4 linked regions of the Homo sapiens genome follow. The protein of the gene in region 1 purifies or fractionates together with the protein of each later gene. This does not show direct contact. Each region holds a gene or a part of one and is shown in the gene's direction. Other genes may lie near its edges.

Region 1 (3,913 bases):
AGCCCAATGGAACAGAAGAGTAGAGAAACAAATGCACATATCTCTGGGTGCTTGTTATATGACATAGGTGGCACTGTAAAGTAGTGTGGCTGGGTCATTTCGGCTGGATGATCATGTGAAAACAAAAAATGACTCTTGACCCTATTTCACGCCACACACAGAAATGACTTAAAGATGGATTGTAGATCTAAATGTAAATATTAAAATAATAAAACTGCTAGAAGGTAAAATACAAGGATGTCTCCATGATCTTAAGGTAGGCAAAGATTTCTTAAACAGGACACAAAAATCCCTATAACCATAAAAAATGAATACATTGGACTACATTAAAAATAAGAACTTAATTTCAACTTCAGGCCTGGTGTGGTAACTCACTTCTATAATCCCAGCACTTCGGGAGGCTGAGGTGGAAGGATCGCTTGAGGTCAGGAGTTTGAGACCTGCCTGGGCAACAGAGTGAGACTCCATCTCTATGAAAAATTTTAAAAATGAGCCAGGCATGATAATGTGCACTGTAGTCCCAGATACTTGGGAGGCTGAGGCGGGAGGATCACTTGAGACCCGGAGTTCCAGGCTGCAGTGAGCTACCGTTGTGTCACTGCACTCCAACCTGGGCAATATAGTGAGACCCTGTCCTTAAAAAAAAAAAAAAACTCAGTTTTGTCAGTGACAAGTTAAATGAAAAAGAGAAAATAAATAAAAATAAAAAATAGCTTCTCATCAAAATATACCATTATAAAGTTAAAAGGGGGCTGGAAGCTGTGGCTTATGCCTATAATCCTAATACTTTGGGAGGCCAAGGCTGGCGGATCACTTGAACCCAGGAGTTTGAGACCAGCCTGTGCAACGTGGAAAAACCTTGTCTCTATAAAAAAATGCAAAAATTAGCTGGGCATAATGGCACATGCCTGTAATCCTAGCTGCTCAGGAGGTTGAGGTGTGACGATCACTTGAGCCTAGGAGGTCGAGGCTGCAGTAAGCTGTGATTGTGCCACTGAACTCCAGCCTGGGCAACAGAGTAAGACCCTGTTGTTGTTTTTTGTTTTTTGTTTTTTTATAGACGGAGTCTCGCTCTGTCACCCAGGCTAGAGTGCAGTGGTGTGATCTCAGCTCATTGCAACCTCTGCCTCCCAGGTTGAAGCGATTCTCCTGCCTCAGCCTCTGGAGTAGCTGGGACTACAGGCACCCGCCACCACGCCCAGCTAATTTTTGTATTTTTAGTAGAGGCGCGGTTTCACCATATTGGCCAGGCTGGTCTTGAACTCCTGACCTCAGGTGATGCACCCACCTCGGCCTCCCAAAGTGTTGGGATTACAGGCATGAGCCACCACACCCGGCCAACCCTGTCTCACAAAAAAATAAAATAAAATAAAAATAAAGTAAAAAGGGAAGGTACAGAGAGGGAGAAGATATTTGCAGCATGTACAAAGGATCATGTTTAGAATATATAAAGAGCCTCTACAAATCAATAAGAGAAAGGCAGACAACCCAGTTTTTAAAATGAGCAAAATACTTGAATAGGCAGATTACAAAAGATAGTATCCAAATAGCCAGTAATCATATGGGAAGGTGCTCAGGCTCAATAGATATAAAGAAAATGCTAGTTAAAATCTCATTGCATTACCACTACCAAAATGGCTAAAATAAAGAAACCCACAAGAAAACCTGACTATACTGTTTTCTAAGTGTTAGGAAGAATGTAGAGCAATTAGAACTCTCATACACTGCTGGTGGAAGTCTAAATTGGAAACTACTCTACAAAACTGTTTGAGAGTGTCTATTAAAGGTGAACCTGTTCATACTGTGTAACTCAGTAGTTCAGCTCCCAGGTACACCCCCAACAGAAATGCATACATATGTTCACTAAAAGATACATACTAGAACATTGGTTGCACTACTATTCATAACGGCCCCATACTGGAAATAACTCAAATTTCCACCAACAGTAGAAAGGATAAATAAATTGTGGCATATTCATACAGTGGACTAGTAGCACATGAGAAGGAAAGAATTGCCATTCCACATAATGCCTGGTTGAATCTTATGAACCTAATGAATGAAAGAAGACGGACACAAAAGAGAATGTATCTATCATTCCATTTTCATGAATTTCAAAAACATGCAAAATAACTCTATGGTTTCATAAGTCAGGATAGTGGTTACTAATTTGGGGAAAGGAGATCTTTTTAGGGTACTGGTAATGTTCTGTTTCTTGTCTAGGGTACTGATTACAGAGGTACTTTCACTTTGTGAAAATTCATTGAGGTGTAACTTATTTATGTATTTTTGCATATTAATGCAATAAAAATTTACTAAAATTCAAACATAATAGATTTTAAAATTCTAATTTTAGATTAATAAGATATTTACACTATTAGAAAATTTTAAAAACAGAAGAAAATAGTTTAAAATTCTCATTCCTACCCCCAGACCCCAGCCACCTAGTTCCCTCACAAACAGCCAATGATACTAGTTTTTGGGGGGGGGTTTGTTTTTATTTTTGTTTTTGAGACATGGTCTCACTCTGTCGCCTAGGCTGGAGTGCAATGGCTCAATCACCACTCACTGCAACCTCTGCCTCCCAGGCTCAAGCGGTCTTCCTGTCTCAGCCTCCCAAGTTGCTGGGACTACAGGTGTGCACCACCACGGCTGGCTAATTTTTATGTTTTTTGCAGAGCTGGGATTTTGCCATGTTATCCAGGCTGGTCCTGAACTCCTAGGCTCAAGCAGTCTGCCTGCCTCAGCCTCCCAAAGTGCAGGAATTATAGGCGTGAGCCACTGTGCCTAGCTGATACTATTTTTGTACATGCTTCCAGAGATATTTTTTAAATATGCAAGCAAATAAGCATGTATGTAATTACACACATGCACACACACACATATCTATTCTCTTCCAGCTCCCCCATTTTATATGTGTGGCAACATTTTGAACACATTATTCTACAGTTTGCTTTTATCATTTGTTTTATCTTAAAGACCTTTCCAGTATCTGTACATAAAGAAGTGGTTATTTATTTATTTATTTATTTAGAGATGGAGTCTCGTTCTGTCGCTCAGGTTCGAGTGCAGTGGCGGGATCTCAGCTCATTGCAACCTCCGCCTCCCGGGTTCAAGCAATTCTCCTGCCTCAGCCTCCCAAGCAGCTGGGACTACAGGCGCACACCACCGTGCCCAGCTAATTTTCATATTTTTAGTAGAGACGGGGTTTCACCATATTGGCTAGGCTGGTCTCGAACTCCTGACCTCATCATCCACCTGCCTCGGCCTCCCAAAGTGCTGGGATTACAGACGTGAGCCACCGCGCCCGGCCCCTTATTTCTTTTTACAGCTGCATAATTTACTTAATAAGTCTCCCTCCTTTTCTGTTTTGAAACAGGATCTCACTCTGTTGCCCAAGCTAGAGTGCAGTTGCGTGACCACGGCTCACTGCAGCCTCAACCCCTCAGACTCAAGCCATCATCTCACCTGAGCCTCCTGAGTAGCTGGGATTACAGGCACTTGCCACAATGCCCAGCTAATTAAGAAAATTTTTTTTGTAGAGTCGGGATCTAGCTATGTTGTCAGGGCTGCTCTTGAACCCTTTGGCTCAAGTTATCCTCCTATCTTGGCCTCAAAGTTCTGGGATTACAGGTGTCAGCCACTGTACCCAGCTATAAGTCCCTCTCTTTATGGGCATTTAGGTTAGATTATTTTCGGTTGAGGTGCTTTCTTCTTTCTGAAGTATGTTGTGTTAAATATTTTTTCCCAGGCTTTGTTTTAACTTTTTTTTTTTTTTTTTCCCTTGAGATGGAGTCTCGCCCTGTCACCCAGGCTGGAGTGCAATGGCGTGATCTCGGCGCACTTCAACCTCGCCTCCCAGGTTCAAGTGATTCTCCTGCCTCAGTCTCCTGAGTAGCTGGGATTACAGGTATGT
Region 2 (3,913 bases), on another chromosome or scaffold:
CTTGTATGTTCTAGGAGGCTCACAGTGATTTGACTGGGGGACTGTGAGTGATTGGGTGTCTTTTATTCTCTGTACTATGTCTTCTCTTATGGTTATGTATTATTAATTACTATTTAAAACTATTGTCTACATCCTAAAAATCAAACTAAAATTTGAAATAAATTATTTGGAAAAACTTTGCAGGGAGCTTCAGAAGTAAAAAACAAAAACTCGGCCACTGTATGGAAGTTGTGTCATACTTGTCTACTACTACTTTAGCTTTCCATTTCCTAGAAATGTGTTTGCACTGTGATCATCAAAATAGAACTGTGCAGTACTTAAAATGTAAGAATCTGCAAAAACAAAACTACAGAACAAATTCCGAAGGTGACCTGAGAAGACCAAATGGATAAGCTAATACATCCAGGTGTCTCCGATTATATTATGATAAAGTGTAGGGAGGTTGAACGTTACATAAATACCACTGGATATTTTTCTTTGTTAGATGTGGCCCCATGGTATTGGATGCTTTAATCAAGATTAAGAATGAAGTTGACTCTACTTTGACCTTCCGAAGATCATGCAGAGAAGGTGAGCATTTCATTCCTGTTGGGCTCCAGATACTTGTGGTCTTCCAAAGAGGCTTGGGCTGGCCAAAGCTGATAGAGACATCTGGAAAACAGCTGCAGCTCTCTGCTGGGTGAACTTGCTGTGCAACCTAATTCCTTTTCTTGGGTAAATGCATCCAAAATTCTAACCATGGTGCAAGTTCTGGTTTCTGAGTTTACTTTCCTTCAGGAGCATTCTATCCTGTGGTTACTGCATCTGGCGGTCCCTGTGAGCTGCTCCACGCTTCAAGGCCTAGCTAGGACCTGCTGGCTGGCACCTTCCATGCTGCTGAGCTCTTTTATTAAGGGAGCAGTGGAGAGTTTCTGTCTGGCACTTATGCTTGTCCAGCAGGGGAGATGTGTGAGTCTCCCTCAGCTCCCAGCATGACATGTCCTTGGTAGCTGTGTTCTGGATTGGCTGGTACAGTGTCTCCCTCAGCATGTGGTTACTTGTGCTGCTGGTGCCACATGAGCCCATTTGAGGCAGTGTGCAGACTAACATTTTCTACATGAATAGCAATGTATTCATTTTCTGTATTAGAAAAATATAATTACTGCCGGGTGCGGTGGCTCACACCTGTAATCCCAGCACTTTGGGAGGCCGAGGCGGGTGGATCAGCTGGCGTCAGGAGTTCGAGATCAACCTGGCCAACATGGTGAAACCTTGTCTCTACTAAAAATACAAAAATTAGCCGGGCGTGATAGCGGACGCCTGTAATCCTGGCTACTCGGGAGGCTGAGGCAGGAACCCGGGAGGTGGAGTTTGCAGTGAGCCAAGATCACGCCACTGCACTCCAGCCTGGGCAATAGAGCGAGACAGTCTCAAAAAAAAAAAAAAGAAAAATATAATTACTAATGATGGTATAATAGGGATATAAGTGGTTTTTTAATGTGAATTTAAGCAAAACAAGTTAAAGAAAACCCAAGAGATACTTTAAAGAAAGTTGATTCAGGTGGTTCTCAGGTATAGCAAAAATTGCACAGGGTGCAGTGAAGACCGACTGGCCTGATGTCCGTGGAGCCAGACTGTGTGCCCGGCTCTGTTCTGTGCACTGGACATGAGGTAGATGACTGTGCTTATTATCTACCTTCAATTTAAAGGTGAGGCCCAGAGAGGGTAATGGACTTCCACAAGGACACATAGAGAGTGACTTGAGAGCCGGGAGTCAGCCAAAGCTGTCAGACTCCAGACTCCAGATCTGCTCTCTCAGGCACTGACTTGGCTTGGAACACCTGGGATAAAACAAAAGCAGAGAGTAGCTTGATTCTGTGAGGACACTGAGCTTTTTTCTAAGAAAACCTTAAAAAAAAAGGAAAAGCCAGTATTGATACCGGCCCATGGCTTTTTATCTGTTCAGCTGTACATTTCAAGCATTTCAAGTCTTTTAAGACATCTGTTTTGATTCAGCTAATCTTATTTAGCGTTGCAAATGCTGATGGATATTATGATAGTTCGGCTGAGTCCTGCTGTTCAGGGAACATTCTGCGGCAGTTAAACAGCAGCCTTCCCCATTAAGTCCTGGCAACACAGGAAAGGTAGATGCTTTTCAGTAACCTTTCCCTGTAGGACTCTTTCAGAACCAAGAACATAAGGTGTGACCCATCTGGACTAAAAAAAATAAAGCAGAATTGTATCAATTGCTACTCCTTTTTATTCCCATCTTGTTTTTCTTATTTTTTTTTTAATTCCCATCTTGTAAGAGAATTCCCAGGGAGCCTTTTTGAGAGAAAGTTCATTGGATTTATTTTTTTAATTTTTATGCCATTTCTTGTAAAAGCAAACTGCTCTAGTTGGATGCCAGGTATACATAAATGTATTGATAATATCCAGTCTCTTGGGGAACTCTAGGAGTATTTGCTTAAGACACATCTTTGGGTTCCCTTACACTCTTTCTAAGATTTACAGGAGAAGGAGAGTCTTACTGTCTTTTCTAGTCTTATGAAAGTGATAACCGACTGGGCGCAGTGGCTCACGCCTGTGATCCCAGTACTTTGGGAGGTCTAGGTGGTAGGCTAGCTTGAGGCTAGGAGTTTAAGACCAGCCTGGGAAACATAGACTCCCTTTCCATTAAAAAAAAAAAAAAAAAAGGTGAGGCCAGGCATTCAGAGGCCGAGGCGGGCAGATCACAAGGTCAGAGTTCGAGACCAGCCTGACCAACGTGGTAAAACCCCGTCTCTACTAAAAATACAAAAATTAGCCAGGTGTGGTGGCGGGCGTCTATAATCCCAGCTACTCAGGAGGCTGAGGCAGGAGAATCACTTGAACCCGGGAGGCAGAGGTTGCAGTAAGCCGAGATCGTGCCACTGCACTCCAGCCTGGGCGACAGAGCAAGACTCCATCTAAAAAAAAAAAAAGATGATAACCAGTGCAACTTTCTCAAGCAATCAGGTTTCTCTGACCTAATGATCTTCAAAAAACAGCTTCAGAGGACTGGCACTAGAGGTTTAGAGTACATAATCATTTTTAAATTCCAAAACACCCAGGAAATTTCCATATACAGGAAGTAGGTCCAGGCTAAGAAAATTCTCATGTCGGGGTCCTGGGTCAGCACGTTTTTTGTTTAGTTTGCTTTGCTTTGCCTCAGTTTCATATTAGTTCATTCTTCTCCTCTTTGGAAAGTCCATGCTGAGTCAGCTTTTGTGGATTTCATAGCCCCAGGGTACTATGCTGCGTATTTTATGAAGACAATAGAAGAAGCCTTACCTCTGTCAAGTGTAGTGGCTCAGGCCTGTAATCCCAACACAGTGGGAGGCAAAGGCAGAAGGATTACTTGAGGCCGTGAGTTAGAGACCAGCCTGGGCAATATAGTGAGACACCTGCTCTACAAAAAACAATTATTTTTTTCTTTTTTTTGAGATGGAATCTTGCTCTGTCACCCAGGCTGGAGTGCAGTGGCGCGATCTCTGCTCACTGCAACCTTCTCCTCCTCAGTTCAAATGATTCTCCCGCCTCACCCTCCTGAGTAGCTGGGATTACAGGCACCCACCACGACTTATATTTTTAGTAGAGACAGGGGGTTACCATGTTGGCCAAACTGGTCTCGAACTCCTGACCTCAAGTGATCTGCCCACCTCAGCCTCCCAAAGTGCTGGGATTCCAGGTGTGAGCCACTTCACCCAACCTACAAAGAATTTTTTTGAATTCGCCGCACATGGCGGCATGTGCCTGTAGTCCCAACTACTCAGGAGGCTGTGGTGGGAGGATCGCTTGAGCCCAGAAGTTTGAGGCTAAAGTGAGCTACAGTGAGCTATGACTCCACCACTGTACTTCAGCCTGGGTGACACAGCAAGACTCAGCCAAGAAAAAAAAAGAAGAAGAGCTATCT
Region 3 (3,913 bases), on another chromosome or scaffold:
AATTTTTTTTCTTGATTTTTTACTATGTTTTTAAATGTTTTTATGATAATAATGCTTTATATTTGAGGGAAAAAAGCAAATTCTAGTTCTTAGAAGCATTTGTTTGATTATTGGAAGCATCTACATTGATGAGTATCTCTTACTAATCTTATAAATTCTCTCTCCCATCCCTGACCACTCAGCTCCCTTCTCTGGAGGGAACCAAATCAAGAAAATATATTTATGTTTGTTTTCCTTCCATGTTTTACAAAAATAGTATTAATAGCATTTTGACATACTTTTCTATACCTTTTTCTTTTCTTTTTTTTGAGACAGAGTCTCACATTGTACCCTGAGCTGGAGTGCAATGGCATGATCTCGGCTCACTGCAACCTCCGCCTCCTGGGTTCATGCAGTTCTCCTGTGTCAGCCTCCCGAGTAGCTGGGATTACAGGTGCACACCACCACACCCAGCTAATTTTTTGTATTTTCAGTAGAGAGGGAGTTTCACTATGTTGGCCAGACTGGACTCGAACTCCTGACCTCATAATCCACTTGCCTCGGCCTCCCAAAGTGCTGGGATTACAGGCGTGAGCCACCACGCCAGGCCAATTTTTGTATTTTTAGTAGAGACAGGGTTTCGCCATGTTGGCCAGGCTGGTCACGAACTCCTGACCTCGTGTCCACCTGCCTTGACCTCCCAAATTGCTGGGATTACAGATGTGATCCACAGTGCTGGCCTGCCTTTTTTTGTGATTGCATAATTATTCAGTTTTTATTGGTATATAGATTGCTTTTAATCCTTTGTTATTATAGAGTATTACATTATCACATGCCTAAGTAAGTCGTAGGCCTTATGTCTTCGTGTTCCAGGTTAAGATATTGTATTCAGGTATACTTGTCTGCTGAGGAAGCAGCATGGCAGATACCAAATTAATTTTTTAGCTACCAGATGCAGCCACTAGCTTGTGGGTTGTAAGAGCAAATAGTTCTTTCTCTTTTGAGATGAAGTCTCACTCTGTTGCCCAGGCTGGAGTGCAGTGGCGCGATCTTGGCTCACTGCAACCTCTGCCTACCAGGTTCAAGCGATTCTCTTGCCTCAGCCTCCTGAGTAGCCGGGATTACAGGTGTGTGCCACCACGCCGAGCTAATTTTTGCATTTTTAGTAGAGACCAGATTTCACCATGTTGGCCAGGCTGGTCTCAACTACTGACTTTGTGATTCACCCGCCTTGGCCTCCCAAAGTGCTTGGATTATACCTGTGAGCTACCACGCCCGGCCTTTTTTTTTTTTTTTTTTTTTTTGAGACAGAGTTTTGCTCTTGTTGCCCAGGCTGGAGTGCAATGGTGCAATCTTGGCTCACTGAAACTTCCACCTCCTGGGTTCAAGCGATTCTCCTGCCTCAGCCTCCCAAGTAGCTGGGATTACAGGCACTTGCCACAATGCCCAGCTAATTTTTGTATTTTTAGTAGAGACGGGGTTTCGCCATGTTGGCCAGGCTGGTCTCGAACTCTTGATCTCAAGTGATCTGCCTGCCTCGGCCTCCCAAAATGCTGGGATTACAGGCATGAGCCACCATGCCAAGCCACAAATAATTCTTTCATTTGAAAATTATAAAACAAACCAGAAAAAGTCTTAATGAAATAAGAATTATATTTTTCTCCTTCAACCTGATTGCTGTGAAAGAAACTGGTAGTTGCAGGAAAATACTTGTGATTGGTACAGTAAATTTTATTAAAACAACTCAGTATTTAGAAAATACTTGCATTCATCTAGTGATTTTGTTTGATTTTGTTTTACAGTGAAGCCTGCCTACAGTTTTCACAAATCTGTATCCTTTCAGTAAAGAATGGCTTATATATATACATTTATTTACCTTCCTTTTGGTTAATTTATGAAATTTAGAAATTATTCATTTTTATTTAGGAAATCATACATTCTTTTTTATGGAAACTTTATTACTAAGTGTCCTCATTTAAAAAAAATGTTATTATAGGAAATTTCAAACATATATAAAAGTAACTCAATGGTGTAGTGCACCCCATACATTGAGATAATATATTGCAGCTAAAGATAGGATAGGGAGTTTTTAAAATGTGAATATCTGAAAAACAATATAGATCAGTTGGGTTGGAATGTTACAAGTAGCTTGCAAGAGGCAGCTGGCAGCAAGATGGATAGAAAAGGAAGTTATGATAGAGGAGAATGTAGTAGATTCTTCACTAGAATATACCTCATAAATTAACATGTCACATGTATTAATACTACAGGTATAATGATGCAGTACTTGAAATTATTTAATAAATGTTAGATTATATTGTGAAAATCACAAAGATCATTTGTTTTCCTTTGTTACCAATAGTGTTTCGTAAAACTATCCTTTCGTTTCACATGAATTGTTAGACTTCATTAAACTGTACAGATCCTGTAGTGTGTGTTCCATCCAGTTTCTTTATTGGAGACAGTGGAATTCCCTTGGAAGTAATAGCAGGAAGTGTTTCTGCAGATGAACTTGTTACAAGAATTCACAAGGTCCGACAGGTAAGAAGGAACAGAACTGTTGTTTCCGTAAATGGTACGTCAGGAATTGGATTTTTTTTTTTGAGATGGAGTCTCGTTCTGTCGCCCAGGCTGGAGTGCAGTGGTGTGATCTCAGCTCAAGTGCAGCCTCCGCCTCCCAGGTTCAAGTGATTCTCCTGCCCCAGCCTCCCAAGTAGCTGGGATTACAGGCACCTGCCACCACACTGAGCTGATTTTTGTATTTTTAGTAGAGACAGGGTTTCACCATGTTGGCCAGGCTGGTCTCAAACTCCTGACCTCAGGTGATCTGCCCGCCTCGGCCTCCCAAAGTGCTGAGATTACAGGTGTGAGCCACCGCACCCTTCCTAACATTGGAATATTTTTGGAGCCCCTCTGTATATTCAGGAAACTGCCATGCCAAAAATCTTAAAAGGTAGTAAGTACTGTCTTTGTCACCTGTTTTTGTAAATAGCATGAAGTTACAGGTGCCAGTAGCCAGTACCTAATACTTGACTGACTTCTTTACCTTTCTTTATTTTTTTATTTTTTTGAGATGGAGTCTCTGTTGCCCAGGCTGGAGTGCAGTGGACTGATCTCAGCTCACTGCAATCTCTACCTCCCGGGTTCGAGCGATTTTTCTGCCTCAGCCTCCCCAGTGGTGGGATTACAGGCGCATGCCACCATGCCCAGCTAATTTTTGCATTTTTAGTAGAGACGGAATTTTGCCATGTTGGCCAGGCTGGTCTTGAACTCCTGACCTCAAGTGATCTGCCCGCCTTGACCTCCCAAAGTGCTGGGATTACAGGCATGAGCCACCACACCTAGCCATCTTTTACCCCAGTCTCAACACATAATGAATATCACCATAACTTTGTTGAAAGAGAAAGTTGCTGTCATATTAAGGCTCTAACTATATATTGCTTAATATATTTTAAGGACGTTATACTCAATAATTAATCATTTCTGTCTACTTTGGACAAATGGCTGGTAGAAGTTTGTAACTTTTTTCTTTGAATTCTAATTTGAGGGAAAATCAATAGTGTGCTTTAACAAATGTTTTTATGGTCTTGCCAGCTTGCAGGTAAATTCCATAATGTGATTATATCATACTTAGGATTATACATTTTGGATTCATCTATTTATGAGCATTTCGTATTTCTCTTTTTATAGAGTATAAATCAACCTGTATTTTGGTCTCTACTGCCATGGTAAGTTTAGATTCTTATCTATTAATTAAAATCCAATTTATTTTCTGCCTAGATGCATTTGCTAAAAAGTGAAACATCAGTAGCAAATGGCAGTCAGTCAGAAAGTTCAGTGTCTACTCCATCTGCGTCATTTGAACCTAACAACACTTGTGAAAACTCTCAGTCCAGAAATGCAGAGCTTTGTGAGATACCACCCACTTCTGATA
Region 4 (3,913 bases), on another chromosome or scaffold:
GTAGGATTGAAATAGTAGGGCAATGTAGATGATAGAATTGAGAAACACTAACAGAGCTAAGGAGTGACAGCTTTAAACAATATTTTAAAATTTATATACAATGAGAAGAATAAATAGACTTATAGAAAGAGATTTTCATCCCAATTACCTGGTAATGTTATTGAATACTTTTTTATTACAATCTGTGATAAAATGCCATTTATGTAACCAATAAGACATAGTGTGGCCATTGAGCCAAGTTTGTGGTTTACCTTTGACTGTAGTTAAAACAAGTGTGATGAATGAACAATTGCTGTTACAGCTGGATACAAGCAGGACTTTGTAAGAAGAGTCTTGAAATCTTTAGTTGAAGTCTGTTTCTCACCACTGTACTGAAGCTGAAAGTGTTTCAAAGCTAGTAGGCAGCCTTCTTTTGATGGATCTTATTCACTTGAAATTAAAGACAGAAGCTCTCCTAATCACAAAAATTCTTTTGCCATAATTAATAACTTGGGAATTTTCAATTGCTTTTGAGTACAGTAAGAAAATTAAGGAAATTACACATTTTGGATGTGCTCAGTACCTTACAACAGGAATAGTTTCAGCTATGTCTGTCAAAATGATAAGTATGCTCTACCTTTGATTTGAATACCCACCCTCTCTTCTAGTATATGTCAAATCCTAGAGCTGAAGCTCCCCAGGGATTTGGTACTGCTGGTTCTGTTATAAAAATGAGCCAATAAATGTATAGGCTGGAAGTGGCATTTACCAGGGAAATATGCCTGAAATGAAATGAAGACCTACTTTCTAACATGCTTCTTTTTTAATCCTCTGCATACTGTGATGGAATTGTAGGTTGATGCTCCAGGCTTCCCCTTGAATGAATGCCTGTGGGCTAGGCTAGAAGCTGTTTTCTTTGTGGTTTGTCTCTTGTCCAAACCCATGGGAAGCCCAAGCTCCTTTCGTTTTCATTCTTTTCTAACTCTAGTGCTTTTGAACACAGAACCCCCATCCTCCCACCACCCAAACTCCACATTCCAACCCCATGATTTCATGGTACCTGGCATGTCTCCCCTGCCATGCCGTCAGGCCGCCTGCTGACTCCTGCAGAGGGAACAGACGGGAACATAAACTCACTGCAGAAGAGCAGGATGCTCTCTGTATATTTTTAAGACCAGGTATCCAGTTCCCATTTAGAGGCTGTATTTTTTTAACAGCGCCTTGAAAATTGAACAAAACACTTCTCGTTGGTCTCATTGCTTGATAATATCATTCCCTCTGCACTAATGTATAGAATCCCAGGAACTAGAGAATGGAAAAGATGTATTAGATCATTTCTAGCCCATTCCCACTGGTCACAATACTTTTTTCCCACAGTCTCTTCTCTGGTGCTTTTCTCTTCTAGTTTTCTCAAGAATTTGTTTTCTCCATTTCTCCTGGGGAATAATTTCTGAGTTTGAAGATGGAGGAATATATGTGAAAATATTCCTATTATTTTCAACTTAAAATTCCTGGTCTTTATAACCCTTTACATTACCATAAACAGTCCCTTATCTTCCTAGGTCAAGTATTTCAGGATGGTATTTTTTTCCTTTCCATTTATTAACTTCAGAGTTTGTTTTTCTGCTTTGCTTTCTCTCTTCATCAATCAGTCCCTAAAGCCCATTAATCATTTCTTACTGCACTGAAAATTCCTTTGCTTATTCCCATATCAGGAATCCAGAGCTGGTTAGGGTTCCTAGGTCCTGGAGGAAGCCTCGCTAATAGGTACTCATTCTATGCTAACTTCTCTCTCTCTCTCAATTCTCAAGTAGGAATTATTTTAAAAATATTGTTTCTAGATTATGATTTGGGGATTTCATCACTTGAAAGCCTTTTATGTGTGTGTTTGTGATTTTGAGTGTAAGATTATATTTGTTCTCAATTACCTGAAAGATATTTTTCATATCCTCAGAGCCACAGATCATTTGGGTTTCCTCCTCAGTTCCTGGATCAAGCACAATTCTGGACCATGGAACTATGATGTAGCATTCTATTTTAGGGCTATCATCTTAGGAGTTGAGAGGAAAATAGACTATATTTGTAGGATTTGGAATACTTGGGGAAAAGGAAGTGCCAAATTTAAGTAACCTTGGCACTCACATATCAAAAGTAGATTAGCTCTCAGGAGCTAGCATTAGGTATAAAAAAGACTTAACATGGCTTGTGGCTTCCTGGATTGGAGGACTCAATATTATAAAGATGTCAGTTCTCCCCGAAACAATCTATAGATGCAGTGTGATCTCAGTCAGCAACCCCAACCAGCAATTGCAGCTTCTAATCTGATCTAAAAAGAAGCAGCAAAAAATGAACAGGGTTTTTTTTTCTCTTGAGACTTGACAAGATGATTCTAAAATATATTGATACGTATAAAGGGCCAAGGATGGATAAAGTACTCTTGAAGAAAAAGAAGGTTGAAAGCCTCACTTTAGCAGGTTCCAAGACATATTTTTAAAAATCAATGTTATACTGACACAGTGACAGACAGATAGACTAATGAGTCAGAATTGAAAGACCAGACCCTTACCAGATTCTTCATAGAGGGATCCTTGATTTATGATGGCGATGGAATTTCAAAGCAGTGGGAAGAGACAGTCTTTTCAATAAATGGTGCTAGAATAATCAGATATTCATATAGGAAAAAAAGAAGAAATTAGATGCTTACCTCACACCATATGCAAAAAAACTCCAGATGGATACAGACCTAAATGTGAAGAGTAAAGATAAAACTTCAAAGTGCACACACACACACATTTTGTATATGCATATGTGTGTGTGTGTGTGTCTAGCTATATGTATGTATCCATATATGCACACACACACACACACACACACGTGCACCTTCATAACTGCAGGGTATTGAAAGATTTCTTCTATGATACAATAATCTGTTATCAGAAGTTATATATCTGATTCATAAAATTAAGTACTTATCTTTGTCAAAAGATAATATAAATAGAAGACAGCCATACAATAAGACAATATATGCCCTACATGTAATTGACAAAATATTAGCATCTAGAATATGTACAGATTCTGAAATCAATACAAGACAATCCAATCTGAGAAAAACAGGCAAAATAATTTAAATAGGCTCTTCATAGAATAGGAGGTAAAAATAGGTAGTAATCATAAAAAGAGTTCCCAACTTCTTTAATAATCAAAGAGAGTTAAACCATAATGAGATTCTACCTCATTTCCATCAGATTAGCTAAAAATAAAAAGACTGCTAATACCAAGTGTTGATGAGGATATGGAACAACAGGAACTTGGTAGAAAGTGTATAATGTTACATACTTAGGAATAGTTCACTATATTGAAGTACTACAATTGAAGATACGTATACATACCTTATGACTCGGCAATTCTACTCCTAGATATATACACTAGAGAAACTTGGCTCATAATACATTAAGATACCTGTATAATAATGGTCTTTTTTGTCCCTGTAATTTTTTATTTTGCAAATTTTTAAACTGACTGAAAAGTTGCAAAATTAATACAATGAATATAATAAAGTCTTAATAGATGGTAGCTAAGCAAAGCATAGTAGCTAGTAGAGAGAGCATACATGGGCTTTGAAGTCAGTGATATCTGGCCTGAAACCTCAACTCCACCACTTACTAGCTGTGTGACCATGGGCAATCTAGTTAAATCTGTGAGCCTCACGTCTCTCATCTATAAACTGGAGGTAATAATATGCCTACCATATTAGGTATTAAAATGATTAAATGCATTAATATATGTAAAGCACTGGGCATAAATGCTTGCAACATAGTTGTTCAGTAAATTATTGCTGCTATTGTTTTGCTGTGGTGGTGGTTAAAAATGATAATGATGCATTATATTTTCTCAGGGCCTTTTAGTTACAGTATATTTATTGATACATACTCAT

What was found.
Region 2: the proteins of MRPL48 (region 1) and SDHB fractionate together in Homo sapiens (co-fractionation; one large-scale study listed by BioGRID). This does not show direct contact.
Region 3: the proteins of MRPL48 (region 1) and UBXN4 fractionate together in Homo sapiens (co-fractionation; one large-scale study listed by BioGRID). This does not show direct contact.
Region 4: the proteins of MRPL48 (region 1) and WARS2 fractionate together in Homo sapiens (co-fractionation; one large-scale study listed by BioGRID). This does not show direct contact.

The regions. Positions count from the first base shown.
Region 1 is NC_000011.10:73,839,461-73,843,373, forward strand, and holds part of MRPL48 (large ribosomal subunit protein mL48), read left to right. Parts: intron 1-3,866; exon of another isoform or gene 3,867-3,907; intron 3,908-3,913.
Region 2 is NC_000001.11:17,029,717-17,033,629, reverse strand, and holds part of SDHB (succinate dehydrogenase [ubiquinone] iron-sulfur subunit, mitochondrial isoform 1 precursor), read left to right. Parts: intron 1-484; coding exon 485-570; intron 571-3,913. UniProt on the Homo sapiens protein: Iron-sulfur protein (IP) subunit of the succinate dehydrogenase complex (mitochondrial respiratory chain complex II), responsible for transferring electrons from succinate to ubiquinone (coenzyme Q).
Region 3 is NC_000002.12:135,751,758-135,755,670, forward strand, and holds part of UBXN4 (UBX domain-containing protein 4), read left to right. Parts: intron 1-1,781; coding exon 1,782-1,810; intron 1,811-2,401; coding exon 2,402-2,520; intron 2,521-3,759; coding exon 3,760-3,913. UniProt on the Homo sapiens protein: Involved in endoplasmic reticulum-associated protein degradation (ERAD). Acts as a platform to recruit both UBQLN1 and VCP to the ER during ERAD.
Region 4 is NC_000001.11:119,077,838-119,081,750, reverse strand, and holds part of WARS2 (tryptophan--tRNA ligase, mitochondrial isoform 1 precursor), read left to right. Parts: intron 1-3,913. UniProt on the Homo sapiens protein: Catalyzes the attachment of tryptophan to tRNA(Trp) in a two-step reaction: tryptophan is first activated by ATP to form Trp-AMP and then transferred to the acceptor end of tRNA(Trp).